Linked DNA regions of Homo sapiens: regions 2, 3, 4, 5 and 6 are each linked to region 1. Evidence: fine-mapped expression QTL. A gene starts in region 1. Each other region holds a variant in brackets. All regions are shown on one strand. Distances are from middle to middle. Region 1 holds the start of MLKL (mixed lineage kinase domain like pseudokinase). Region 2 overlaps GLG1 (golgi glycoprotein 1). Region 3 overlaps MLKL (mixed lineage kinase domain like pseudokinase). Region 4 overlaps LOC105376772 (a long non-coding RNA gene). Region 5 overlaps LOC107984827 (a long non-coding RNA gene). Region 6 overlaps MLKL (mixed lineage kinase domain like pseudokinase).

The links. PIP is the estimated chance that this variant, and not a neighbour inherited with it, causes the effect. A credible set is the group of variants that fine-mapping cannot tell apart.
Region 2: its variant is the best candidate, but not a certain one, in a credible set for the expression of MLKL in whole blood (TOPMed, PIP 0.61).
Region 3: its variant is the best candidate, but not a certain one, in a credible set for the expression of MLKL in whole blood (TOPMed, PIP 0.85).
Region 4: its variant is the best candidate, but not a certain one, in a credible set for the expression of MLKL in macrophages after interferon gamma (Alasoo 2018, PIP 0.67).
Region 5: its variant is the best candidate, but not a certain one, in a credible set for the expression of MLKL in whole blood (INTERVAL, PIP 0.68).
Region 6: its variant is the best candidate, but not a certain one, in a credible set for the expression of MLKL in monocytes after interferon gamma (Fairfax 2014, PIP 0.90).

Annotation. Positions count from the first base shown.
Region 1 is chr16:74,698,130-74,703,069 of GRCh38, reverse strand. MLKL (mixed lineage kinase domain like pseudokinase) reads left to right here and starts at 2,208. Exons shown (of 11, transcript NM_152649.4): 1 at 2,208-2,617. RefSeq lists an enhancer at 2,305-2,754.
Region 2 is chr16:74,533,811-74,538,750 of GRCh38, reverse strand. All of the region lies in intron 1 of GLG1 (golgi glycoprotein 1), which reads left to right. Among named protein-coding and RNA genes, the nearest start is that of GLG1, 71 kb to the left of the region's middle. The variant C/T (reference allele first, on the strand shown) is at 2,599.
Region 3 is chr16:74,668,843-74,673,290 of GRCh38, reverse strand. It overlaps MLKL (mixed lineage kinase domain like pseudokinase), which reads left to right. Exons shown (of 11, transcript NM_152649.4): 11 at 753-1,436. The coding sequence ends at 787. It also overlaps the pseudogene TMPOP2. Among named protein-coding and RNA genes, the nearest start is that of RFWD3, 4.2 kb to the right of the region's middle. The variant C/T (reference allele first, on the strand shown) is at 1,893.
Region 4 is chr16:74,402,026-74,406,965 of GRCh38, reverse strand. LOC105376772 (a long non-coding RNA gene) reads left to right here. Exons shown (of 2, transcript NR_135170.1): 2 at 267-677. Among named protein-coding and RNA genes, the nearest start is that of CLEC18B, 17 kb to the left of the region's middle. The variant A/G (reference allele first, on the strand shown) is at 2,502.
Region 5 is chr16:74,431,302-74,436,241 of GRCh38, reverse strand. LOC107984827 (a long non-coding RNA gene) reads right to left here. Exons shown (of 3, transcript XR_001752253.3): 2 at 1,634-1,799; 3 at 670-1,072. Among named protein-coding and RNA genes, the nearest start is that of CLEC18B, 12 kb to the right of the region's middle. RefSeq lists an enhancer at 4,480-4,940. The variant AG/G (reference allele first, on the strand shown) is at 2,912.
Region 6 is chr16:74,675,780-74,680,719 of GRCh38, reverse strand. MLKL (mixed lineage kinase domain like pseudokinase) reads left to right here. Exons shown (of 11, transcript NM_152649.4): 7 at 1,740-1,821. Among named protein-coding and RNA genes, the nearest start is that of RFWD3, 11 kb to the right of the region's middle. The variant A/G (reference allele first, on the strand shown) is at 2,654.

The DNA of each region.
Region 1 (4,940 bases):
CTGATCCATTCAGGCAATTTTTGCATAGAATATGAGGTTTAGGTGAAGTTCATTTTTTTGTTCAGTTACTCCACCACCATTTGAACACCACCTATCTGGCAAAGGATTAATATCTAGAATATTTAAACTCTCAAAACTCAAGTTTTTTAAAAAGAATTCAACTAAAAATGGGCAAAAGACATGGACAGACATTTCACCAATGAGGCTATACAGATGGCAAACAAGCACATGAAAACATGTCCATCATCACCAGGCACTAAAGAAATGCCAATTAAAACCATGATGAGACCAGGCGCAGTGGCTCATGCCTATAATCCCAGCACTTTGGGAGGCCAAGGTGGGTGGATCACCTGAGGTCAGGAGTTCGAGACCAGTCTGGCCAATATGGCGAAACGCTGTCTCTACTAAAAATACAAAAAATAGACAGGTGTGGTGGTGCACGCCTGTAGTCCCAGCTACTTGGGAGGCTGAGGCTGGAGAATCGCTTGAACCCAGGAGGTGGAGGTTGCAGTGAGCTGAGATGGCGCCACTGCACTCCAGCCTGGGCAACAGAGTAAGACTCTATCTCAAAACAAAACAAAACAAAAAACCATGATGATATATCACTATTCACCTGTTAGAATAGCTAAAAATTCAGGCAGGGACAAAATAAAATGCTGCTGAGGATGCAGAGAAACTGAATGTCTTGTACATTGATGGTGGGACAGTAAAAAAAAAAAAAAAGAAAAGAAAAGAAAAAAACTTCCAAAAGGTTATACATTGTATGATTTTGTTTATAGCAGATCAGTATACCCATCCTGCAGCTGCTATGAGTGTTGACAGCTAAACACTCACACAGCTTCCCCCTCGTCCAGAAGAATTGCCCTGGGCAGAAAGGAGGCTGCCTCTTGTTCCAGACCTTCACATTCCAGACCTCCCCATGGAGCCTCCACTGACTACATACTTGTTTCACTTTTTCTTCCTCTGCCCTATCATACCCACCACTCTCCTAAGAGTCTTCCTTCAATAAATCACAGGCACCTGTGTTACTTGTTGAAGGTGTCCAGGTTCTTGGCATCTTGAACAAAGAAATGGGCAAAATGCACAAAGCAAGGAAAGAATGAGGCAACAAAAGCAGAGATGTATTGAAAACAAAGGTACACTCCACAGGGTGGGAGCCAGCGTGAGCATAGGGGCTCAAGAACTCCGTTACAGAATTTTCTGGGATTTAAATACCCTCTAGAGGCTCCCATTGGTTAATTGGTGTACACCCTATGTAAATGAAGAAGATGAAGTGAAGTTGCTCAGTCACTTACTCAGTGAACGCCATATGTAAATGAAGAAAATATTTCCTGTCATAGCTGAAATGTGTCCATTTTATTTAGTTCTAAGAAGTCAGCGTGAATCAGCTTTATGTTCCCTGCCTGCAGACCCTATTCTCCTGCCTCACCTCAATCTCTTCACCTAAGACAGGAAGAAAACTGATGATGCAGGAGACGAAGAACAATAGCAAGGCGAAGAAATGAATCTCCAAGGCCGGCTTCAAGCGATTCTCCCCTCTCAGGCTCCCGAGTAGCTGGGATTACAGGCATGCACCACCACGCCTGGCTAATTTTTGTATTTTTAGTAGAGACAGGGTTTCCCCATGTTGGCCAGGATGGTCTTGAACTCCTGACCTCAGGTGATCTGGCCACCTCCGCCTCCCAAAGTGCTGGAATTACAGGCATGAGCCACCACACCCAGCTCCCAGTTCTGTTCTTTTAGAGGCAAATAGTCTGTTGAGTAAATGCATAACACTACTTAGACTTTCTAGCTGAAGATGTAGTTAATCTTAAGAAAACCTGACTCACACTGTAACAGGATGTTCTGCAATGACCTTAGAAGAGGAAGTGACTTTTTTCCCACTTTGGTGTCTCTTCCCTCGTACCCTCCCCACCCCGCCAATATTATCCAGCACAGAGAAGCAAACACCAGAAGCTTCTCTCCAACTTTCAGTTTTTCTCTAAACTTCCAGTCCTTCTCATACTGTGTCCTGGTTATAATAGTTGCTGGGACCTTATTCTATTCTGAATCCCCAGCCCCTAAAGAAGGCTTGGTACTGACGTGTACAGCGTAGTTACCCAGTGACTTTGGGGAAGGCAGGAAGAGTGTGGAAAGGACAGGAGGAAGGAAGGGAGGGGCCGTGGCTCCGAGCTGCCTAGAAAGCGGCTCCAGGGAGCCAGGGCACCGTGAGCCTGGTGGTTGGCAGCTGGAGCCACGTCGGAGGGGGAAGTGTCGCAGCATTCTCTGCAGGCATCACAGACCTGAGGCAGTGGCCTCCGGAGGGCACTGGACAGAAACAGCCATCCAAGTGGCTGAGTGGAGGGACCCTGCTCAAGTGCAGCTGCAGTGGCCGGGGTTTCCCTCAGGTAGGGATCGGGGCGCCTTGTCGCCGCCAGCCACGTGTGGCGTCCGGTACAGTCAGCAGAGTGCAGGGTGCGGGCACCAGGAAAGGGGGCGCAGGGGAACTCCCGCGGGCCTCGCGTTTGCAAACTTCTCGCCTGGGCAGGAGGCGGTCGTGGGAAAGAAGGTGGAAGAGCGAGCTTTTTGGAACTGTGCACGGGACAGATTGGACGCACACCCCTCGGGAGGCGCGAAGGTGAGCATGGGGTCTTCCCAGGAGGCGGCGGGGCCGAGGGGCTGCAGCCGAATTCCTGGACGGTGATGGGAAGAACCAGGGGTGAGGGTGGCCCGGTCCGAGTTCCTGGAACTCAGGACCGAGTTGGTTTCATTTCCTCAGCTCTGATGGTGGAGCTGCCTGCTCGGATCTCGCACTACCTTCCGCCAAAGCGAGACGCCCAGTAGCAGTGGGGGTCGTGGAGGGCAGGGGCACGGGAACAAGTTACCTGATGTCTTCTCAGAAAAAGGAAGTCTTCAGGTTTGCAGGCTGAAGGCGTGAGAGAGAGACAGAGTGAGAGAGAGAGAAGAGGGAAATGCCTGATAACCTTTACTTATTTTATTTTATTTTTATTTTTTATTTTTTGGAGGGAAGAGGTGAATTTGCATTGTTATTACCATTTAAAGATTTTTCACTTTTAAAATTAGTAACCTGTTTTCTCATCGTAACATATGAACATAATCCCCTTTTTCTTTTTATTTATTTATTTTGAGAGATGGAGTCTTCCTCTGTTGCCCAGGCTGGAGCGCAGTGGCACAATCATAGCTCACTGCAGCCTCCGAACTCATGGGCTCAAGTGATCCTCCAACCAGATCCTCCCAAGTAGCTAGGACTACAAGGTGCACATCACCACACCCAATTAAATTTTTTTTGTATTTTTTGGTAGAGCCAGGGTCTCGCTTTGTCACCCAGGCTGGTCTCAAACTCCTGGGCTCAGGTGATCCTCCTACCTCACCCTCCCAAAGTGCTGGGATTACAGGTGTGAGCCACTGCAGCTGGCCTGAACATATTCTTAGCTGTTTGTTTTACATATTATAAATAGCACTGCAGTGAACATCTCGGTAGCCATCTATCTACAAACACAAGCTTTTCTACATCATAAGTTCCTAGAAATTCAAATTGCCCAGTCTAAGTGTGTATATATGTATATTCCCTTTCTTCCCTTGTAGATCATATACTTAATAAGACCTTAAACAATTTAAGTTATTGTAGGGTGCTTTTTCCCAATATTTTGCAGTTTTTAATATATTTTAATTTCATACAGGCAAGTCCCCTTTTCTTTATTTTTTAAAATCCTGGTTATCCCTACTAATTTCCCATTTCAAATGAACTTTAGGATCATTTTGATTTAATGCCAAAATATGTCAGTAGATGTTTTATTGGAACTGCATTAAATTGGATTTAAATTTGGGAAGGATTGCTGGGTTGGTCTGTTTTAGTCTTCCCAGCCAGAAATATAACACTTCTCTTTCCTCCTTTCTTCAAGCTTTGTTTTGTGCAATTTTCTTTCTTTCTTTTTTTTTGTTTTTGTTTTTGTTTTTGAGACGGAGTTTTGCTCTGTTGCCCAGGTTGGAGCACAGTGGTGTGATCTCGGCTCAGTGCAACCTCCACCTCCCGGGTTCAAGCAATTCTCCTGCCTCAGCCTCCCGAGTAGCTGGGATTACAGGCGCCTGCTACCATGCTTGGCTAATTTTAGTATTTTTAGTAGAGATGGGGTTTCACCATGTTGGCCGGGCGATCTCAAACTCCCGACCTCAGGTGATCCACCTGCCTCGGCCTTCCAAAGCGCTGAGATTACAGGCATGAGCCAATGTGACCGCTGCAATTTTCTTCATACCATGCCACCACTGTATAATTTATTATTTGAAATTGTTTGTCAGTTCTATGGGTGGGATATTTTCCCCATTTTCCTTTCTGATTAGTTCAGTGCTGAGATATGGCTTTCTGATGAGGCTGCTGGTAAGATAACTGGAGCTTAGAGCTAGGAAGCTACAATTTGCAAGATTCCTTGAACAACATTGCCACATTTGCTTCTGTTTCTGGTGCAACAGAGAAAGTGTAAAACCTTTTGCCCTCACAATTCCCAAGAAATGGCCTTGAAGATATCTGCTTAGCACGTGGGAATAGCTGGGTAGTCTGAGATCCACTAGTCTTTTTAGGAGTGCCCTAATAACTGTTACCTCCCTTGCCCAATCACTGTAACTCTCAGGCAACAAAAACACAACTATATCGATTGCTCATTTATTTAGTTTCACTTCTGCCAGTGCCTTACTCATGTTTTAAAGCCATACTTGGGCTCCAGGCCAATTATTTTCTCCAAGCTGCTAATTAATCCATAAACTGGCGATAATACTTAACCTACCTATTTCACTGAGCTGTTAAAAAAAAAAAAACTAACTTTGTTTTTTGTTGTCGTTTGTTAGTGGTGGTGGTGGTGGTGTTTTTGAGACACTGTCTCATTCTGTTGCCCATGCTGGAATGGAGTCAGTGGCACAATCATGGCTCACTGCAGCCTCGACCTCCC
Region 2 (4,940 bases), 160 kb after region 1:
AAGAAAAAAAAAAAAAAAAAAATCTCAAAATCTCCCGTTGGACCTGTACAGTAACTCCTTTTTGAAAAGGTAGTTGAATGCTAAAGACTTAAATAAAAGCAGCTACAACTCTTTAGTGAATCAGAACATTGTTGGAAGGCATAAAGCCTGTGCTGATCACTGTCCTTTTGGAAAAACAATACTCAGCCACTATCCCTGGGTACAAATAAGAAAAATAAATTCTGATAGAGCCAGAATAAGGCACTAAGAGGAAAGCAGTTCTAAACCTGAGGATCGAGATTGCATTTAGACTTGCTCAGGAGAGTTTCCCGGGGGTAAAAGATTGGGTTTATTTTGTTAGAGACCAGCTACATTATCTTCATTGTCATTGGGGCTTTGGACAAGGTTAATAAATGAAGTGTTCGTGTGATGGGAAGTTACTGGGTTCTTAATGAATAAACTCCCAGAAGACTTGACTTAATACTGCAGCAGAGTGTCTCCAATTGAAAGGAGGCATTAGGTTATCGCGTGACTTCAAATTTTTCTAAGGCTGTAAAAGCACTGATACTGTTGGCATCTTTTGTTTGTTTTCTCCTGAGGGATTCAAAAACAAAGTTGGTTGTCACTTAATTTAGTACCAGTTATCTTAGAAAAAGGACCCTATTCCTTTATGTGATCTGATGTAGTTCAGCTTCAGTGGAAACTGTAGAATGTTCCATATTTTAGACAACATCCAACTCCCAAGCATTTCTGTTTCAGAAACTGGGACACCTTCCAAGATAGCTTTATGAATCCTTTAATTTCTCCTTCCAGACTCATTAACTCAGCCTGTTCACCTTGGGGAAATCATAGTTCCAGACTTTCTGTAAAAACCTTCCTCCTAAGTGAATGCGGTAGTTGATTTGAGAACATTCAGACTCAAGCTTTTCAGTAGTTTATTCTGAAACCTGTTTGTTGTGACTTTGACTAGGAGAGATTAAGGTGAAACAGTAGTAACCATCATAATATACAAATTATCTGCATTAAAAAAACTTGAAATTCAGTAAGTACATTTTTAAATTCCACATCTCAGATTTTATGGACTCATAAAGCTGGAAAGAACCGCAACCAATGTTTGACCAGTATTTCTTAATTTTTTCTTGTCTCGTGGATCTTTTTGAGATGGTGATAGCTGTTGTGGATATTCTTCTCAGAAAAATATACATACACACAAATGCTTGCGTTCAATTTCAGGATATCTCAGACTCCCAAAGCCTGTTCATGGATTCCCACTCTAGTTCAAAGCCTGTTGTTAGGGGTTTAGAGAAGTTAAGTGATGTACCTAAAGTCACACACTTCTATTGCTAACTACTATAGAAAAGTGGCAGGGTTCTTTTTTGTTTTCTGTTTTTTGTGAGGTTTTTTGTTTTGTTTTTTAACCATTTCCTGATACACTCATCATGTTCTTTATTGAAGTCAAGCAGGTGTCTCCAAGTACTTGGTGCTTTTCCCTTTACTGCCTTTGTTTGCTGTATCATTTATACAGCATTACCCAAGTTCCTTCTCTGTTTTAGTCACTGATGCATTGGGATGGGGATGTGCTAAATTCTCTTCATTTTCTCATTCTTCTGTTTATAATAGTTTACTTATTGATACTAATATATGCAATGTCAGGAATCATTTCTCTCATATTTGGTCATTAAATTAGCAGCTATTTATTATACTTTTCATAACTTTTTTTCTTACAGTTTTCCATAGTAAGAGGACAGTTTTATTTCCAATGAGTAAATACTTGATGTAAGAGATCCTTCTTTTTGAAGCCCAGACTTCTATCTCCAGATAAGGAGTAGCTGATAATGTGACATAGCTCAGCTTCTAATTTGATGCCTCCACAGGCTAGGAGCCAGCACTTTGCCCCTGGTTTGAAGAATGCAGGTAGAGGTAGGAATCTTAATGATGAGAAGAAGTTTTTTTCCTCTATCTTGGTCATGTTCTTCCTATCATTTGAAAAATCAGTAACCATTCCCCCAGTAGATACATACTCATAAAATATTAGTTACACCCATGTTATATGCATTATAAAAATACGTTAAAACATAAATTAAAGGATAAGCTTTTTTAAAAACAGAAGCTCTGTTATTTTCTTCCTGACCCCCAAGGGATCATGTAACTTCTTCCTTGAGGAATCACTCCACTCCTTTTTGGAGATCACTCTTCTAATTCTTTAGGCCTATCTCAAGTCCCTCCTCTTGCTTGTTTGATTTCGCTATTTTAACTGTATAACTGGATTGTAAACAACTTGAGATTAGAGACCAGATAGAATGTTGTCTTTGTATCCTGCAACAATGCCTAGCACAATTTTGAGTTCATCATCATTATTCAATATATACTTGTTGGCTAATTTCTTGGGATCATCTCAGAGCATTATTTCACTAATTATTACCAAAGAGGAAGAAAAAAAATCCTCAGTTTTATCTTATTTTAGTAATTATGGGTGTTATTCCTCATGCTATTCATCTTCTAGGATTAGAGACAAGTGAGCCTGTCTGCACTTAAAGTTTTGTGGAAATAGATGTACTATATCTGATGAAGTGGTTTAATTGGGACATAATGAGAATGGTGCAGTATGAGAACCAAACC[C/T]GAATCAGCACCTGCATCTGTTTTCGTTCCTTGAGATTTCTGTTCATTGGTTCTTTATCACATGACTGAGTGCTGAAGCATAGTGTTTTCTTTTTATTTATTTATTATTTTTATTTACTTTCTCGAGTTCATTTATTCTGACATTATTGATGCACCCACCATTCCCCGGGTAGTATAAAATACTCCTTTGTATTTTATATTTCGTTCTCTCTCTTCTCTTCCTCTAAATCACCACTGTGTTCTTGGATTCTAAAAACCCCTCTAAATTTCTGAAATTAATTGTCACAATTATGCTTAACAATTCTTCATAGCGATTTGGTTCCATGAATCTCAAAGACCTAACATCATAACCTTGTTTTTACGGCATTCCTATTCTGTCATCTTTTCTTTCTGCATAGAGAAACTAAACCTAGGAAAAAGCTGGGCATACTGGCTCATGCCTGCAGTCCCAGCACTTTGGGCAGGTGAGGCAGGAAGATCACTTGAGACCAGAAGTTGAGATCAGCCTAGGCAACATAGCGAGACCCGGTCTGTACAATAAAATTTTAAAAAATTAACCAGCTATCATGGCACATACCTTTAGTCTCAGCTACTAGGGAGGCTGAGGCAGGAGGATCAGTTAAGCCCAAGAGGTGGACGCTGTATTGAGCCATAATGGTGCCACTGCCCTTCAGCCTGGCAACAGAACAAGACTCTATCTCAAAACTAAATGAATGAATGAATGCAAAAATAAGACGCATTTATAGTCAGTTGCAAATCAAGATAGCAAAAGAGATGAAAAGCAAGCACTGGTGTCCAGATTTGCACTTTTGTGTCTCCATGGATTATGTCATTTCTTCATGAAAGGTACAGTAGTGCTCTGTGCTTTCCAATATAATTCACTAATTTTAGATCATAGCTGTTACAGGTTCTAATTTAAAGGCTTTGATATTTTTATTTTATTTGTTTGATAGATATATTAGTCATTTTTTCTTCATAACAGACACCCTCAAACTTTCATGGGCTTAACTCGAGGCTTGTTTTTCTTTCCCATGGGTTATTCGAGATGGCTTTGCTTCAGGCTACAGGTTGAGGGTTAAGTTCAGGTCTGCTCCACATGTCTCTTTTCTTTGTACTACCATGTTCTCATGGGGAATGGCAGGGGTGCAGGAATACAGGCCAAACTACCCAGGCACATTTAAATCCTCTGCTCATATTGTATCTCCTAAAACTCCATTGGCCTGAGCATGTCAGTGGCCTATATTATATTATGTTACATTAACAGTATTACTAAGCACACAGTACTGCACCTCTTAGGAAGGAATGACATCATCCATGGAGACTCAATTAACTGCAAATGTGGACTGCAGTGCTTGCTTTTCATCTCTTTTGCTATCTTGATTTGCTCAACGTCAGCGGAGCCGGGTGTATACTCAGTTTATAGCAGGAGGCGGTACAGACTTACAAAACAGAGGATCTGGATGTAAAATCCTATGCAAGTGAAAAATTGGGAGAAATAATCCAGTCTCCCGCTGTAGGGAAGCAAGTCATTAAAACAGTAATTAATTTGCTAATATAGTCCTGTGGACTCTAAACATGACAATACATTTCTTTCTATGGGGAGCTTACATCTTATTTGACATTATTTTGAAAATTCTCCAATGCTCTAAATTTCTTTCAAGAATGCACCTTTAATCCAAATTTGTTGTTTAGTAGAAATGAGTATAAGTAGAGAAGATTGTGATATTAATTGCCTTCCATCCCTTGTTTGAGAAAGAGCTAGAATTGCTAATTGATTGGGAAAACTTAAAGGATAGATTTTAAAAGGATAGTGTAGAAAACTGTCTAAGAAAAAGCATTCTTGTAAATAAACTATTAAGAGATATAAGTTAAACTTCAGATTGAGGTGGTGGGAACAGAGTTAAGCTAGGTCGACTCAGCATGGAGGCTGATTTCTGAGACTGAGAAAGGCACCTTAAAAAGGCATTAAAGTATCTGCTATTAGACAAGTAGGGAGAAAGTTCAAAAGTACTGTGTTATATAATAGAATCTTATGATTACCTAGCAACCTAATTAAAGTCAATTTTAATATATGTTGTAAGTATAAAAATGAGTTTGTATGTTGCTAATGCCTACTGAATTCTGCAGTGGAATTAATAATTCCATAGGGAAACCTTTTTCTTCTTGAAATAATGCTAGGTGTGGCTACTTGATGTGTTCTATTTTCTTTATTGCCTTTTCTTTATCCTTGGATAGAAAACATCTGTTTATTTTAAAACTAGCATGTTTTGCTACCTAAATTGATAATATTTAAGTTATAGGCACACAGAATTCACTTTATATAAACAGATTCGAATACTATG
Region 3 (4,448 bases), 30 kb after region 1:
AGCCAAGATCGCGCCACTGTACTCCAGCCTGGGTGACAGAGCAAGACTCTGTCTCAAAAGAGAAAGAAAGAAAAGAAGAAGGAACTAAAGAGCCATGAGTCCAGACTTTTGAGGCAGCTTCCAAGGATGTTCTGTCTGCTTACAGAAGTCTTGAGCATGAGGACTGTTCTTCAAGGCCTTCTCACAGATGGTCTGTTGGGAAAACCTCTCACACTACCTGAGAGGGTCTCATCTGTCATCTCTCCTCTCCCTTCATCCACATCCCTACCTTTCAGAATGAAGAATCAAAGTCACGGCATAGTTTCTGTCTGAAACTTTCTCTTCACCACCACAGAGCAGAAGCGCAGACTTAATGATGTGTTCTGAAAAATTGGTCTTTGGGGTGGATGAGAAGCCAACAGTGATTTATACAATGCTGTCCTCCACTACACTCTCTCCTCTGTCTTCTTTCTTCTTCTACCAAGCTCCCTTACAACCTAGGGTCCTCCTAGTATTAAGGAATCTAACACCAGAGAGTAATTCATACTAAGATGTGAGTTTACCCCCTCCTGTGAGGTGTTTGTGTTTTAAAAGTTGATCAAGTAAGAGAACTTTATATCCCAAATGTGTGAGTGCTGATGGTGGTTCAGGCACCAGCCAGACCAGGGGGAATGCAGTTTCTAAATGACTGTGCAATGTAGAAATGTCTTTGTGTTTCTAACTTGGCTCTCAGCTGCCTACCCTGGTCTAATTTTCTGTTCATTCATCCACAGAAATCTTAAAGAAACTCTCCACCTTTTCTAAGTAGTGTATCAAAATCTAAACCAAGGAGTCTCTGGACAAGAAGCTGGGAGAGGCACAAACTGGACATCTCTCTCTCTCATATCCTTCGGCATTGGGTTATCTATGGGTGCAAGGAGTGGGCACGCTTCTCTGTTACAAATAGAAAACGATTCCAGTCATACAGGACACATCCCACTCCAAATGATATTTCCAAAAACATACCTCTGACAGTAACTTTGATAGATGGTTTGTCAAATGTATCTTTCTGGGTATCCACACCTCTTGGCAATGAAATTTGCAGCTCCTCCCTTCCATAAATGAAGTCTCTTTCCCCACCATTTGAATCTGGGCTGGCACTGTGACTTGATTTGATCAATAGAATGTGGAAGAAGTGACTGTATGCCAGTTCCAAGCCTAGGTTTCAAGAGGCCTTATAAATGTCTGTTGGAACCTTACCCAGCCATGAACATGTTGAGTGAGCATGCTGGAGAATGAGAGACCACATGAAGCAGAAACATGCTTTCCTAGCTGAAGTCATACTAGCCCAACCAACATGGCAGCTAACACATGAATGAGGCCAATCAAGACCAGAAGAACCACTCAAGCAGATCCCAGCCCAAATTGCCCATTCACACAATCAGGAGCTAAATAAATTACTGTTGTCTTAACACTAAGTTTTGTGGTGGTTTTTTACACAACAGAAGTAACTAGGCAGAAACTGTTCAATTCTTCCTCTTGCCCAAGGAATCAAGTACAAACTTCCTATTTGGATATCCATAGCCTTATGGATATCCCCCATACCATACTTTCCAACCTGACTTTCCAATCAGATGCCAGAGTTCTCCTACCAGAGATTGCAAACTCTAATACCCATAGGGCCTAGGAAGGAAACTAAATGAATGATTTGAACCTGGAGGGGGCTTCAGTGGGCAGATGAGCAAGAACAGCGTCTCCTCAACTCCAGTCTATACTTTGTCACATAGAATGGGATCCCAACATTTCTAGAGCTTTCCATTTTGTCAAAAGAGCTAGAAAGTTGGATTTTTCTGTGATGTCCTTATTTTTAAAGGTCAGTATCTCATTAAAAATTATTTTAGGCTGGGCACGGTGACTCATGCCTGAAATCCCAG[C/T]GCTTTGGGAGGCCCAGGCGGGAGGATCATCTGAGGTCAGGAGTTCGAGACCAGCCTTGCCAACATGGTGAAGCCCTGTTTCTACTAAAAATACAAAAATTAGCTGGGTGTGGCTGCCACATGCCTGTAATCCCAGCTACTCGGGAGGCTGAGGCATGAGAATCGTTTGAACCTGGGAGGCGGAGGTTGCAGTGAGGCATGATTGCACCACTGCACTCCAGCCTGAGTGACAGAGTGAGACCCTGTCTCAAAAAAAAAATTATTTTAATGCTGATAAGACAAACAAAATATGTCCACATAGGAGCTGCCAGATTTTAATCCCTGCCAGACTCAAACCCATGTTTGTGGTGCTTTCATTCTAGATTTCTTTTTTTAAGACGGAGTCTTGCTCTGTCACGCCCAGGCTGGAGTGCAGTGGTGCAATCTTGGCTCACTGGAACCTCTGCCTCCTGGGTTCAAGCGATTCTCCTGCCTCAGCCTCCTAAGTAGTTGGGATTACAGGTGCTCACCATCACACCCGGCTAACTTTTTGTATTTTTTAGTAGAGATGGGGGTTTCACCATGTTGGTCAGGCTGGTCTCGAACTCCTGACCTCAGGTGATCCACCCGCCTCGGCCTCCTGAAGTGCTGGGATTACAGGTGTGAGCCACCGCGCCCGGCCTAGAGTTTCACTCTTGTTGGCCAGGCTGGAGTGCAGTGGCGCAATCTCGGCTCACTGCAACCTCCGCCTTGCAGGTTCAAGCGATTCTCCTGTCTCAGCCTCCCAAGTGTCTGGGATTACAGGTGTGTGCCACCACACCTGGCTAATTTTTGTATTTTTAGTAGAGACAGCATTTCACCATGTTGGTCAGGCTGGTCTCGAACTCCTGACCTCAAGTGATCTGCCCACCTCGGCCTCCCAAAGTGCTGGGGTTACAGACATGAGCCACCACACCTGGTCTCATTTTAGATCTTATACCTTTGTTCATGGTGTGTGCTTTGCCTAGGATACACTAATCCCTGTCTTTAAAGTTACATTTTTTTCAGAACTCATTCTAAATCATTCAACAGCAAATGTGCTGTCCATTGTTTCAATCACTGAGAAGACAGCAATAAAAATACATTTGGGTCTTGTATTCTAGTAATCATCTCTGGTGAAGAAAATTATGGCTGATTTCTATTACTATTATTATTATTATTATGAGACAGGGTTTCACTGTGTTGCCTAGGCTAGTCTTGAACTTCTGGGCGCAAGTGATACTCCCACCTTGGCCTCCCAAAGTGCTGGGATTACAGGCATAAGCCACCACACTCGGCCTTATGTTTTTATCTTTTACTTATCCTTGATTTTTTTAAAACCTAGAACATGGTTTTTTTCTATAAATAAAAAATGCAGAAGAATATAAACTTAATATGATTATTTTGTAGAACTTACTGGCAGGTATTACTATTTTACTATTTTCCTTCCTTCCTTTTTTCTTTTTTCTTTTTTTTCAGAGGCAGGGTCTGCTGGTCTGGAACTCCTGACCTCAAGGGATCCGCCCACCTTGTCCTCCCAAAGTGCTGGGATTACAGGCATGAGCCACCATGCCCAGCCACTGTTTTCATCTTTAAAATCATTTGTTCTATTTACTGTAGGAGTTACAGTGAAAATTCTCCCTGGTAGATGAATTATTCATACTCTGGCAGACCCACAATTATTATAGGTGAATTTACTATAAGCCTGATAAAGCTTAATCTTCAGGGCCTTTTACTTGCACAGGATGCCTTCCAAGGCCCTGTACCTGATTTTTCCCAACACTTATGTATGAAAATTTCCAGATACACAGAAAAGTCAGTACAATTGTACTCTGAACAACCATATACCTACCACCTAAATTCTACAACTAACAATTTATTATATTTGTTTTATCACATACCTATTTATCTGCTTGTGCCTCTTTCTAGCCATTAATTCATCCTGATTTTTTATGCACTTCATTCCTAAACACTTCAGCATTTATGCCATTAACTGGAGTTTATCTCTCTATGAGCTTTTTTTTGGCGGGGGGGTGGGAAGGTAAGTTTTTGCTGTGAAAAATTTGTGTGAAATGCACAAATCTTAAAGATAGCATTTGATGAGTTTTGACAAATGCATACATATGAGTAATCCAAACTCTATCAAGATCATGAACATTATGGCCGGGCGCGGTGGCTCACGCCTATAATCCCAGCACTTTGGGAGGCCAAGGCGGGTGGATCACCTGAGGTCAGGAGTTCAGGACCAGCCTGGCCAACATAGTGAAACCCCACCGCTACTAAAAATACAAAAATTAGGTGGGCGTAGTGGCACGTGCCTGTGATCCCAGCTACTCAGGAGGCTGAGGCAGGAGAATCACTTGAACCCAGGAGGTGGAGGTTGCAGTGAGCCGAAATCATGCCATTGCACTCCAGCCTGGGCAACAGAGCGAGACCCTGTCTAAAAAAAAAAAAGTTCTAGAGCTAAAAAAGATTATTCATATGGCACAAAGTGATCTCCTACTAGTCCAAAGTTCAAAAACATTTTAATAAAGTCCATTCATATATCTTTTGTTTGCT
Region 4 (4,940 bases), 300 kb after region 1:
GGCCACACCCAGAGAAACTGGGGCGCCTCCAGTCACCGCCGCGGTCCGCCCCGCCCGAGGCTTTGACCCCCTGAATCAGCGTCGGGGCAGGGATCCGCGTGGGGTGGAAGAGGCTGGGAAACTGGGGAGTCCCGGGCCTCCTCTGGAGCCGCCCGCCCTTGGCTGGCTGGTCCTTCTCTTCCTCGGCTCCCGCCGGGCTGGGCCCTGGGCCGCCCTCACTCCCTCCCCTCTGCAGCCTCCCTTGCGTTTGTCATTCACTCTGCCAGGCTCTCCTTCTGCCTCCGCATGCCCAACGATCCGGAGAAAAACACGGACCATGACATCAAAAGGCCTTGGCCAAGGAATCGTGATTATTGTGATACAAGATTCTGCACCTCAAAGGGGATCCCTGTAGTGAGTTTTGGAAAACGTACAAAGCCTGACTTACAATATGCCTGTTATCTGTGGCGTTTCATCTGGGGAACTTACTTTTCCTTGATAGGGTAAACTATTCTCATCCAGAGTATGTCCCTCAGTCTGTAAAAGTCCATGGTGCCCTACATCTATTAGGGGAGTGAGGAAGGGCAGTGGGCATTGGATCTGCTTCTTTGAAAGCCCCCACCTGTGTTTAGCTTCTGTTAGAGGCCTTTGAACCAGAGCAACTCCATCTTGAGTAGGCGCTGGGTAAAATCAGGCTGAGACCTACTGGGCTGTGTTCCCAGGTGGTGGAGGCATTCTAAGTCACAGGATGAGATGAGAGGCCGGCACAAGCAGTAAAGAAGCCGCGGCCAAAACCCACCAAAACCAAGATGGTGATGCGAATGACCTCTGGTCGTCCTCACTGCTACACTCCCACCAGCGCCAAGACAGCTTACAAATGCCATGGCAACGCCAGAATGTTACCCTATATGGTCTAAAAAGGGGAGGCATGAATAATCCACCCCTTCTTTAGCATATAATCAATAAATAACCATAAAAATGAGCAACCAGCAGCCCTCGGGGCTGCTCTATGGAGTAGCCATTGTTTTATTTCTTTACTTTTTTTTTTTTTTTGAGAGGGAGTCTTGCTCTTGCTCAGGCTGGAGTGCAGTGGCGTGATCTCGGCTCACTGCAATCTCCGTCTCCTGGGTTCAAGCGATTCTCCTGCCTCAGCTTTCGAGTGGCTGGGACTACAGGTGCCCCCACCATGCCGGCTTTTTTTTTTTTTGTACTTTTAATAGAGACGGGGTTTCACCACGATGGCCAGGGTGGTCTCGAACTCCTGTCCTCAGATGATCTGCCTGCCTTGGCCTCCCAAAGTGCTGGGATTATATGCGTGAGCCACCGCGCCCAGCCCTATTCCTTTACTTTTTTTTTTTGAGGTGGAGTCTCACACCTGGCCTCCAATATGTTTATTCATATTGCTGAGGCAGGGGATTGCTTGAGCCCAAGAGTTTGAGGTTGCAGTGAACCATGATCATAAGCTGTATTTCAGCGTGAGTGAGAGATTGAGACCTTGTCTCACAAAATAAAAGTTAAAAAGCCCTTATCTGGAGGTGAGAAAGCCAAATACAAAGGTCTTCTCAGTTGGTTCCCAGTCTTCCCAGTCCAGCAGCCTCAGCATCACCAGGGAGCTGGTTAGGCAAATTCTCGGCGGCCCCAACCTACTGAATTGGAGACCCTGAAGATGGGGCTATCTGAATTTTAACAAGGCCTCCAGGTTTGCATGCTCAAGATTGAGAACCACTGGCAAAAGCAAACAATTTGAATCTGAAGTCAGCCCACCTGCATTTGAATACAGGCCCTGCCACTTAATAACTGTGATTTAGAGCAAGTTAGTTACTTAACAGCTAGGTTGACCAATTGTCCGAGTTTGCCTGGCACTATCCTGATTTCAGCACTGAAAGTACTACATTATCGCTGTGGCTCACGCCTATAATCCCAGCTTCTCAAGCTGTCCCTGTGGAATCCTCAATATCGGTACATTCATCCCTATCTAGCATCCCCTTCCTCCCTCACCCATCCTGCACCCTCAGAATTCATTCTCAGATCACCTTCCCAGATTTTTGCCAATATCAATTAAAAAAATTTTTTAGCCAACCATGTACTGTGAGTAAGCCAATATCAATTAGCAAAATCTTTAGTTTCTTTTGGTGATTCAGTATCTTCCCCCTGGAGTTTTTTGATGATTCAGTACCCTCCTAGATTTGGCCCCTGGGGCCTGCGGGGATGTGACTTGTCATTTAATTCTGGAGAAAATGAGGGGTAGGGCTTATAAGGAGACTCCTTCGGGGCAGGGTCATTACAGGGTGTGTTACATAGGGAAATGCTAGCTGCTGGCTAGCTCTCGCTCTTGAAAGGCTCTTCCTCCCTCAACTGAAATGGGGAAGGGGGAACCCCGGCCGACTGAGGTCCTGACATCTTTAGCACATGGCTTCTTAGGTCACCCAGGGCATCCAGGTTACCAGCTTGGGAAACAGGAGATGTAGGTTGGAGGAAGAGGCTACAGCCCACCCTGGAAATAACTGCCATCCGTCCCACCC[A/G]TATGGTTAGGCTTTGTGTCCCCACCCAGATCTCATCTCGAATTACAATCCCCACGGGTTGAGGGATGGACCAGGTGGAGGTACTTGCATCATGGGGGCAGTTTCCCCCATGCTGTGCTCGTGACAGTGAGTGAGTTCTCACGAGATCTGATGGTTTTAAAGCGTGGCAGTTCCTCTTTCTCGTGCTTACATCCTCGTAACTATCCTGTGGAGAAGGTGTCTGCTTTCCCCTACCTCCATGGTTGTAAGTTTCCTGAAGCCTCCCCAGCCGTGTGGAACTGTGAGTCAATTAAACTTCTTTATAAGTTACCCAGTCTCGGTGTTTGCTTTTTTGAGATGGAGATTTGCTCTTGTTGCCCAGGTTGGAGTGCAATGGCGTGATCTCGGCTCTTTGCAACCTCTGCCTCTCGGGTTGAAGCTATTCTCCTGCCTCAGCCTCCCAAGTAGCTGGGATTACAGGCGTGAACCACCACACCCAGCTAGTTTTGTATTTTTAGTAGAGAGGGTGTTTCATTATGTTGGTCAGGCTGGTCTCGTGCTCCAAGCCTCAGGTGATCCGCCCACCTCGGCCTCCCAAAGTGCTGGGATTACAGGCATGAGCCACCGCACCCAACCTTGGATGTTTCTTTATAGCAGTGTAGAAACAGACTCAGCCGTCGCTGCAGGCCATACCTCAGCTACATAGAACACCTAACTGCCCGCAAGGGAGTTCCTGCTACTAGGATCTTCAGTGACAAAGAGGAAGCTTTGGCTGGCAAGGGTGGTGGGGAGGGGAGGGGCTAGGTACCTAAGGCTTCCCTATCTTTCCACACAGCCTAATTTTCATAGCCTCTGGTCTCCACATTTCACTCTTTCCCAAATAAAGACCTTTTAAGGTGTGGGTCCCCTTGGTCATTCTGTAACCATTGGATCAAGTTTTCAGTTTTTTCTGCTCTCTCAGCTGCAAAATAACACATTCGAGTTTTGGTTTTTTTTTTTTTTTTTGGAGACAAAGTCTCACTCTGTCGCCCAGGCTGGAGTGCAGTGGTGTGATCTCAGCTCACTGTAACCTCCGCCTCCTGGATATAAGCGATTCTCCTGCCTCAGCCTCCCAAGTACCTGGGATTACAGGCACCTGCCACCACACCTGGCTAATTTCTGTATTTTTAGTAGAGACGGGGTTTTGCCATTTTGGCCAGGCACACTCGGGTTTTCTAACCATACCTTGAGCCAAGAATTTGGATTCTGAGCTTGTCTTTTCATTTAAGCTATGTGGCGCTGTTAACATGACCGCCCTGCCCAGCAGATCTTGACTTCAGTGTAATCTTTATTCTCTTCTATGGCAGGAGCCATTAGGTCCCCCAAAGCCTTGCCTTTGATGGATACTTTGTTCCCGGGGACAATGGGATTAGCTGTCTTGCCAGGGCGTGCCATGGGGCTGCTGGTGTCCTGTCCCTTAATACCAGCTGGATTTTCACTGTCCTCTGGCCACTTTCCAGCCTTCAATTGCTCCTGTTTCCTTTGGGGCTTCTTGCTCTGTCCAGTCCTGGTCCTATTTTTGTGAGAATCAAGGTTCTTAGTTTTAACCAACAGAAACTAATTCTGGCAACTCTAAGCAGAAAGGGACTTGGTCAGAGGTCCTGGCTAGTTCCCAGGAGCTCAAAAGGGTCAGAAAATCAAATCAGGAAGAGGACATTGGGCAAAGCTGGCCAGGTGAAGACCCCACAGCCTCTGCTGGCACAGAAGCTACAATTGGCACCACCGAAGTGGGACAGAAGCTGCCACCTGTGCAAGCTAGATGTAGTCGCTGCCGCTGTCACCATCAATTTTTGAGATGATGCTTCTTCCTGCCTGCCACTTTAATTCAAAGCGAAGGCCAGGTGCAGTGGCTCATGCCTGTAATGCCAGCACTTTGGGAGGCCAAGGCAAGAGGATCGCTTGAGGACGGGAGTTTGAGATCAGCCTGGGCAACAGGGTGAGACCCCGTCTAGCCAAAAAATGCAAAAAAAAATAGCTGGGCAGAAAGAAAATGGCTCATGCCTGTAATCCCAGCACTTCAGGAGGCCGAGGTGGGTGGATCACCTGAGGTCAGAAGTTTGAGATTAGCCTGGCCAACACGGTGAAACACTGTCTCTACTAAAAATACAAAAAATTAGTCAGGTGTGGTGGCACACGCCTGTAATCCCAGCTACTCAGGAGACTGAGGTAGGAGAATCGCTTGAACCCGGGAGGTGGAGGTTGTAGTGAGCTGAGATCTCACCATTGCACTCCCCGCTGGGTGACAGAGCAAGACTAGTCTCAAAAAAAAAAAAATAGGGGCCAAGTCGATGGAAGGACAAGAATAAAGAAACTGAGGCCGGGTATGGTGGCTCACGCCTGTAATTCCAGCACTTTGGGAGTCCGAGGTGGGTGGATCACCTGAGGTCGGGAGTTCGAGACCAGCCTGACCAACACGGAGAA
Region 5 (4,940 bases), 270 kb after region 1:
ATCCCAGCACTTTGAGAGGCCGAGGCAGGCAGGTCACTTGAGATCAGGAGTTCAAGACCAGCCTGGTCAACATGGTGAAACCCCATCTCTACTAAGAATACAAAAATTAGCCACAAAAAAATGGTGGTGCATGCCTGTAGTCCCAGCTACTTGGGAGGCCAAGGCACGAGAATTGCTTGAACCCAGGAGGTGGAGGTTGCAAGTGAGCCGAGATCATGCCACTGTACTCCAGCCTGGGTGACAGAGTGAGACTCCATCTCATAAATAAATAAATATACTCAATAAGCCCCAAACAAAATAAATTTGAAGAGAACTATGCCTAAGCACCTCATGATCAAACTATTAAAAATGCAAAATAGTCTGGGCGCAGTGGCTCACACCTGTAATCCCAGCACTTTGGGAGACCGAGGCTGGTGGATCACCTGAGGTCAGGAGTTCAAGACCATCCTGGCCAAGATGGTGAAACCCTGTCTCTACTAAAAATACAAAACTTAGCCAGGCATGGTGGCAGGTGCCTGTAATCCTAGCTACTAGGGAGGCTGAGGCCAGAGAATTGCTTGAGCCCAAGAGGCAGAGGTTGCAGTGAGCCAAGATCTCAGCACTGCATTCCAGCCTGGGTGACAGAGCGAGACTCTGTCTCAAAAAAAAAAAAAAAAAAAGCAAACTGAGAAAATCTTGAAAACAGAGAAAACAACAAATTTAAGGCAGACAAGGATTTGAATGACTTGGACTTCTCATCAGAAATCATAGAGGCCAGTAGAACATCATTAGGGGTTGAAAGAAAAGAACTGTCAGCTCAAAATTCTATATCCACCAAATATATCATTCAAGAATGAAGGTGAAATTAAGACGTTTTCAGTTAAAGGAAAACTAACAGAAATGTAATTAGAGTATGTGGTATGCCTCAAGTAGTGATATTTGCATAATTAAAACAATGTAAACAATGAATATTGATTGAACCCCAGAAGGAAAAAACAATCAAATTTAAAGGATGGGTGGCAAGAGGGGCGATGAGTGTCTGTGTGGTCTGAAAGCAAAATCATCTTCCTAGTTAGTGGAGAATATCTGAAACCTGAAAACCAATAAAATAACAGTATGAGCATGAATTAATAGTTAATTACCATAAGAAAGAGCTCTAAGAGTTGAGAGTTATTACTCCTGAGGATTGAGAATTGCAAGGGTTTGGTGAGTCAGGGAGCTGCTGTTCATCATTATAAGCTTTGTAGTATTACTTGACTTCAAACTAGTATTTATATATCTGATAAAAATTAAATTCTAGCGGCCGGGCACAGTGGCTCACGCCTGTAATCCCAGCACTTTGGGAGGCTGAGGCAGGGGGATCACGAGGTCAGGAGATAGAGACCATCCTGGCTAACACGGTGAAACCCCATCTCTATTAAAACTGCAAAAAATTAGCAGGGTGTGGTGGCATGCACCTGTAGTCCCAGCTACTCATGAAGCTGAGGCAGGAGAATTGCTTGAACCCGGGAGGCAGAGGTTGTGGTGAGCCAAGATTACGCCACTGCACTCCAGCCTGGGCAACAGAGTGAGACTCCGTCTCAAAAAAATAATAATAAAAATAAATTCTAAAAATTAGCCACAAAAAGGTAGTGCCTTTAAGAAAAACACTAACCTGGTCCTATGTGAGTCAGCAGCCTTATTGGGTTGGATGGTCAGATGGGAGAACTAAGTTGCCCAAGGCTGGGCTGCTTCTCTGGAGAGCCCCTGTCATGGTTTCTCTCGGTGTCCCCATCCAAATCGCATCTCTAATTGTAATCCCCAGGTGTCGAGGGAGGGACCTGTAAGGAAGGGAAGGGAAATCATTGGATCATGGGGGCGGTTTCCCCCATGCTGTTCTTGTGATATGAGTGAGTTCTCACAAGATCTGATGGTTTTATAAAGCAGTTTTCCCTGCTCTGGCCGCCTTTTGCCTGCCACCATGTAAGATGTGCCTGCTTCCCCTTCCACCATGATTGTAAGTTTCCTGAGGCCTCCCCAGCCATACGGAACTGTGAGTCAATTAAACCTCTTTCATTTATAAACTGGTGCTGAGGGGTTCTGGGGCTGGAGGTTGCAGAAGGCTGCAGGCTGCACCCTGTCTACCTCTCTCGTTCTCTTGGCTCCTGACTGGATGAGTAGCTGCAGCTGGAGATCTGGAAGCCTGCCTGGAGGAGGAAAGCATGGCCTGGCTAGGCAAAGAGGATTTCACATCTGGGATGAGGTGTTGTACCAGATCATATGAAGAGAGTCTGTGCCTTATTTTATTACCTGAAGAATAGCGTTAACCCTTACTCCAAAGAGGATGGGGACCAGGCATTTATAAAGCATTTTGAGAAGAAAAAGTGGAGCCTGGAACAAGCAGTGTGTTGTGAGGCGCAGAGCTCTGGCACTAAGTGGACCTGGAGAGGAGAGGTCCTTTTCCTTGCCCGAGTCCTCACTTGCTGACGCTAGGATTTCTCCCTCCCATGATTCCACTAAGCTTTGGCTTAAAAGCTGTCAGGTAGTGGCTGGGTGCAGTGGCTCATGCCTATAATCCTAGCACTTTGGGAGGATGGCTTGAAGCCAGGAGTTCAAGACCAGCCTGAGCAACATAGTGAGACCTTGTCTCTACAAAAATTGAAAAGGAGCCAGGCACAGTGGCTCACGCCTGTAATCCCAGCACTTTGGGAGGCCAAGGCCAGTGGATCACCTGAGGTCAAGTGTTCGAGACCAGCCTGGCCAACATGGTGAAACCCTGTCTCTACTAAAAATACAAAAATTAGCTGGGCGTGGTGGTGCATGCCTGTAATCCCAGCTACTCGGGGGGCTGAGGCAAGAGAATCACATGAACCCGGGAGGCAGAGGTTGCAGTGAAGCAAGATTGCACCACTGCACTCCAGCCTGGGCAAAAGAGCAAGACTGTCTAAAAAAA[AG/G]AAAAGAAAAGAAATTAGCCAGGTGTGGTGTTGCACACCTGTAGTGTCAGCTACTCAAGAGGCTGGGGTGGGAGTGAGGCAGGATAGGTAGTTAAGGAAATGACCATGTTCTGGGAACGCAGCAAGCGTGGTGACTGTACAATCAACACAATAAGCCTCAGCATTCACATTGTAATCGAGCTCATTCAAGCAAAGCTGTCTTCAGTAGGCGATTGCCCCTGTAGAGAGCATGCACATTTTGATTTCACCTGTCCTCAAACCGACACACTGCTCATTTTAATAGTAAAAAATACACCCCTGGGTGGAGATTTAAGATGCTAAAGATGCCAGGTGCGGTGGCTCACACCTGTAATCCCAGCACTTTGGGAGGCCAAGGAGGGCAGGCCACTTGAGGTTGGAGTTCGAGACCAGCCTGGCTCTGCTAAAAGTACAAAAATTAGCCAGGGGTAGTGGCACGTGCTTGTAATCCCAGCTACTCAGGAAGCCGAGTCAGGAGAATTGCTTGAACTTGGGAAGTGGAGGTTGCAGTGAGCTGAGATCGCACTACTGCACTCCAGCCTCGGCGACAGAGTGAGATTCTGTCTCAAAAAAAAAAAAAGATGCTAAAGAGACATGCGATGTATAAACAAGCATGTACAACTACTGCACATGTGCACCAAGAAGACCACCCAGACCATGCCTACTAGTAACGCCTCTTCCCACCCACTTACGAATAATCATGAAAGGCTTCCAGAAAGGGAGCCTCCCTAGCGCCAGTCTTTGCTGTCTCATCCTTACGAATGCTGTTTCTCAGTGCACTGTCTATTCCATACTTAACTTTTTTTTTTTTTTTTTTTTTGAGATGCAGTCTTGCTCTGTTGGCCAGGCTGGAGTGCAGTGGCACGATCTCGGCTGACTGCAACCTCCGCCTCCTGTGTTCAAGCAATACTTCTGCCTCAGCCTCCCAAGTAGCTGGGACTACAGGCGCTTGCCACCATGCCCGGCTAATTTTTGTATTTTTAGTAGAGACGGCATTTCACCATATTGGCCAGGCTGGTCTCGAACTCCTGACCTTGTGATCCACCCGCCTCGGCCTCCCAAAGTGCTGGGATTACAGGCGTGAGCCACCATGCCCAGCCTATATATAGTTAACTTTCAAAATACTCTTTTCTTTACAGTAAATGACTCTATGCTGCACTTCTTTTGCTGTGTGTCTCTTGTTTAAATTCTTTTAAACCAAGAAGACAAGAACCAAGGCCTCACAATAGCTGTCAACAGGAGGGTCACTCCAGCCCAGGGGTCGAGGCTGCAGTGAGCTGTGATTGTGTCACTGCACTCCAGCCTGGGAGATAGAGTGAGATGCTGTTTTAAAAAAAACAAAAAAACAAAAAACTGCCCGGTAAAGGAGAATGTGGAATGGGTCACAAGTATGGGCTCTCCTCTCTGGATGAGACTCTAGCCAGCCTTCCCCATGTCTGCACCCTTTTCTGTGGCCAGCCGTCCTGGCCACCTTTGCTCTGCAAGGCTGGCAGCAGTTGGTCCCCGTGCAGATGGGCTGTGGAAGACTGGGCACAAAGCTTTCCTGTGAGGCTGCTGAAAGGTTCTAACCCAGACGATAGGTGCAGAGGTTGGGTGTTCAAACTGGTCACACAGTGGAGAGGTTCTGGAGCACAGCAGCAGAGTGGGCCAGCCAGTCTGAGGAGGAAATGAAGCACAAACTTCGAGCTACATGCAGGGCCCGGAAGATGCTGGAAAGCATAGGGCCCATGCTAGCCAATATCCCCAGGGGCCAGGAGGAGAGCTGCTCACATAGGATATGCACCCAGGGGCATGTCCTGGGCATGCAAAGATACCTCCCTGCAATCAGACCATTGCACCAACTCCCAGGCTGCATCCTAGAGGAAGTCTACACTAAGCCCACATAATTAGTAAACAGACACAAGGAGCTCGGTTAGAAGACATCAGTGCCAATGGCACTTGTGGACTCCAGCCCAGCGTTCATCACAAGCAACTGACCAACACACCTGGGCCTGGGTTATTTGCTTCTCG
Region 6 (4,940 bases), 22 kb after region 1:
TCCTGCCCAACACGGTGAAACCTCGTCTCTCCTAAAAATACAAAAATTAGCTGGGCGTGATGGCACGCACCTATAGTCCCAGCTACTCGTAAGGCTGAGGCAGGAGAATCGCTTGAACCTGGGAGGCAGAGGTTGCAGTGAGCTGAGATTGTGCCACTGCACTCCAGCCTGGGCGACAGAGCGAGACTCCGTCTCATAAAAAAACAAAAAACAAAAAACAAAAACAAAAAAACAAAAAAAAAATACCAAACGCAGACTTTCTTCTTGATGTAATCAGAAAGACTGGAGCAAACTGAAAGGAGAGTAATTTTCCCTTTATATAATCTTGCATACCACCTTATCCCACACTTTTGGAAACACTGTCTTAGCTATTAATTTGAAATTAAGTTTGTTTCTTCTCAACTCCCTAAACTAGTGAGTTTAAGGAGAAGTATTTTTGGATGTTGTAGGGGACACTGTTAATATCCCCTCCAAATGACCTCTGATCCTTTTTACCAGCTCTATTTACCCATCCCCCTCTCGGCATGCTTTGCTGCTGAAAGTTCACAGCTGCAATCTTCAGAGGATTGCCTGTGGGCACTGGAGCCCTTTCACCCTTATAGACAGCTGAAAGTGCCCACGAGTTTTATATCCATCTGTCCCTGCCCTCCCCAACACAGTCCATAACCACTGACTGGTGTAAGTATAAAAGTCCAGTTCCTTTGCTTCCTGTGGGACACACTCTGAGGTGTAATTGTGCCCACAGGTCTCCGCGAGACCACCTGAGCCTGGGATTTCACCTGAAATCAACCTCTTGCTTGATTTCTTCTCCTTCGCCATCCTACTTCCTGTACTCCCTCAACCATTTCTCCTGGGAGCACCTTCTTTTTGTTTGTTTGGGGGACTTTTGGAGTTATTTTTTTTTTGAGACAGAGCCTCATTTTGCTGCCCAGGCTGGAGTATAGTGGCGTGATCTCGGCTCACTGCAAACTCCACCTCCTGGGTGCAAGTGATTCTCATGCTTTAGCATCCTGAATAGCTGGAATTACAGGCACATGCCACCACGCCCAGCTATTTTTTTGTATTTTTATTAATAGTAGAGATGATGTTTCACCATGTTGGCGAAGCTGGTCTCAAACTCCTGACCTCAAGTGATCCATCCACCTTGGTCTCCCAAAGTGTGGGGATTATAAGCGCAAGCCACCATGCCTGGTCAAGGGAGCACCTTCTTGATACAAATCCCTCGTGCCCAAATCATGGCTCATGATCTGCTTCTGGGAGAATCTGAGCTCAGGCAGACACCATGAGTGCAACCCAACCTGGGACGCAGGGGCTTTGTGAAACCAAAGCCCTTGTCTGGAAGTCAGCGGGACCCCAGCTTCACATTCTGCTTTGACCTGAAGGGTCCCAGCAAGGTCCAGCCACCCAGCCATGCCTCTGAGCTCTCGGATCTGCCCAGCACTTCCCAGGCAAAGCAACACAGAGGCAACGTTGTCCTTCTCTACCTAAAGGCACCCCTGATGCCCGATTGCATGCACTTCATAAGGGCTGTCATGCCCCCTTGTGCTATGAATCTCATCTCTGTTCTATACTCACGGCTTGTGATTCTCAAACCTTGCCTCTACATCCCAGTTTTTCCTGTGTAACTGTGGACAGGCACCCATGGTACTGTCCAGCCTCATCAGCCCAGTTATGATTGTCAGTCCCCCAAAGAAAGTTTGGGCAAAGGTACTTATGCTCCCCGCCTTTGGCTGTGTCAGGCTACACCATTCAGAAGCACCTGAACTCCACGGAAAAATCAGAAGCTCAAACTTCCTGGTAACTCAAGGCTACCAAGTGAAGGTGAGTGTGCCTTGCGGGGGCGCTTTGGGTCAAACCTGCATGACTGGTGCTATGAGAGGGGCACGAGTGTCTCAGAAAGGCTTGATTCTTGTCTTAGTTTATTTATTTATTTATTTAGAGACAGAGTCTCTTTCTGTCACCCAAGCTGGAGGGCAGTGAGCGAGATCGCCCCGCTGCAACCTCTGCTTCCCAGGTTCAAGCGATTCTCCTGCCTCAGCCTCCCAAGTAGCTGGGATTACAGCCATGCACCACCACTCCTGACTAATTTTTGCATTTTTAGTAGAGACAGGGTTTCACCATGTTGGCCAGCTGGTTTTGAACTCCTGGCCTCAAGTGATCCGCCCACCTGGGCCTCCCAAAGTGCTGGGATTACAGGCATGAGCCACCATGCCCGGCCTTGCCTTGGTTTTAGAACTGAGTTCAATTTTAGTTTTTTAGTTTCAGAACTAACTTCAACTTTCTGTGTGCCCACCACACAACAGTCTCCATCTATGCCGCCTGTTCTGATGACTGCCTTCCCTCACTGCCCATTTAGCAGGGATGGGCTACAAGTCATTTCCCCTTAGATGCCTGGACACCACTTCTATGTCCCTACAACATACAATGGGGGATCTTGTTAGGTTTAAGGACTCAGACTCACAGGACAGGTCTAGGCCACACTTGTCATTCAGTTACTTAGAAGGATGTCAGCAGCGCCAAACCTTTCCCTCCAGGGTGAGTCCTCGCAGTCATCCAGGAGATACTCTCTTTGTCAGAGCCACAGGTGCTGGAGAAAGAGGCTCCCATTAGGTGGGTGTGGGTCATCCAGGCTTAGAAGCCCATGACCTGCAGG[A/G]GTCAGCATCTCTGGTAACAACTCTGCAGGCATGCCTTCCAGTGTTTCTGCAAGTGACATGTGAGTTGCTGTTTTAAGAGCTGCCACATCTGGGTATGGTGGCTCACGCCTGTAATCCCAACACTTAGGGAGGCTAAGGCGGGTGGATCACCTGAGGTCAGGAGTTCAAGACTAGCCTGGCCAACATAGTGAAACACTGTCTCTACTAAAAATACAAAAAATTAGCCGGGTGTGGTGGCGCACGCCTCTAGTCCCAGCTCCTAAGGAGGCTGAGGCAGGAGAATCACTTGAACCCGGGAGGCAGAGGTTTGCAGTGAGCCGAGATCGCGTGGTTGAACTCCAGCCCGGGCAACAACAGCAAAACTCCATCTCCAAAAAAAAAGAAAAAAGAAAAGAAAAGAGCTGCTACATGGCCAGGCATGGTGGCTTATGCCTGTAATCCCCGCACTTTGGAAGGGAAGGCAGGAGGATCACTTTGAGCCCAAGAGTTCAAGACCAGCCTTGGCAACACAGTGAGACCTCCCCCTCTTCAAAAAATTTAAAAATCAGCCAGTCATGGTGGTGCACACCTGTAATTCCAGCTACTCAGGAGAGTGAGGCAGGAGGAGGATGCCTAGAGCCCAGGAGGTCAAGGCTGCAGGGAGCTATGTTTACGCCACTGTATACCCTAGCCTGGGCAACAGAATGAGACCCTGTCTCAAAAAATAAAAAAGAGGCTGGGCGCGGTGGCTCACACCTGTAATCCCAGCACTTTGGGAGGCCAAGGCAGGTGGATCATGAGGTTAGGAGATCGAGACCATCCTGGCTAACACAGTGAAACCCTGTCTCTACTAAACAATACAAAAAATTGGCCAGGCGTGGTGGCAGGTGCCTGTAGTCCCAGCTACTCCGGAGGCTGAGGCAGGAGAATGGCATGAACCCAGGAGGCAGAACTTGCAGTGAGCTGAGATTGCACCACTGCTCTCCAACCTGGGCGACAGAGTGAGACTCCGTCTCAAAAAATAAATAAATAAATAAATAAATAAGAAAAATTTGCTACAAAGCATTCCCATCAGCTGTTTACTGTGTAGTCCTGTTACCCCCTTGATCCTGCCCAGAAGCAATCTAACAATCAGCAGTCATTTTTATTTTCATCATCAGCAATGTTACTAAGAGCCATAGGTGACAGTCTACCTGTATCAGATTTCCAGGGGAACAGAGCTAAGAAGTTCACTGGAAGTCAGATTTTCATACAGAAGAGGAAAAGATTTTGTGAACTCAGTGTCCACAATTCCCAAATGCTAAAAGAATTTTAGCAGTTTTCTTTGTCATCCATAGACGGTTTTCTTTCTTCCAGTCCTACGAGTGTCAGAGACAGCCCTCAAATAATAGCAGACAGGCCTTTTTTGCCTTTCAGATGCCTTTCCCCCTCTGCGATGGTGATATAAGTACTCCCAAAACACTGTTTCTACTACTCTCACGCTCTTCATGCAGCCTGACTATAAGATGCGCTATTCCACCTTTCATCCCTGGTATCCCATACGGCGCTAGATGTAAGAGAATGTCAGTGCTCAGGAAACGTGTGAGCAAATGAATGAATGAATGAATGAAAGGGGGATGAGCCATCTAAGTGCCTTATCCCTTTTCTCACATTGCCCCTAGATTTGGGTACCTGGCTGAGTTTGGGGCTGGCAGCCTTCAGCACACCAATGGTGTCAATGGCAGGTGTGCATGGGACAAGAACATATGCTGTCATGATTGTGCTACAGTTTCTTTAAGAACACCAGGTGACCGCGCAGGCCTGGGGGGATGACTCACACTCGTCACGCCAAAGCCAAAGGATCAGGCTGACCCCCCATAAAGTCAGATAGCACAGAGGGGATGCCCCCATGCCATTTTTCCATCTGCTTCTTTGGGAAAAGGCGAGCCAGGCAGTGGCTCTATGACCCCTCTCCACTCTCACTGAGTGGAGTTCAGTCCTCAACTGAGAAACCCCTACATTTTAACATAGTCATACTGGCAACAACTACAACTTAGCAGGTCTTACTGGTGCTTTATAACCATTATCTCAAGTAATCCCCCCTGTCATCGCCCCATTTTATACAGAAGAAATCTCTTTGTGTTTCTCTTGGTCACTGCACTGTGATAAGTTGAACCCATAATGTTAACCAATAAAGTAGCCACACAGACAGAAGTCACGACAGGAAATAAATCCCTAAGGTAAAAGACAATTCCCTGGCAATTGTGTGTAGCAACAATCCCTGCCCTTTACTCCTCTACCCAAGATCTTGCTTGTTTCTTTCTAAGT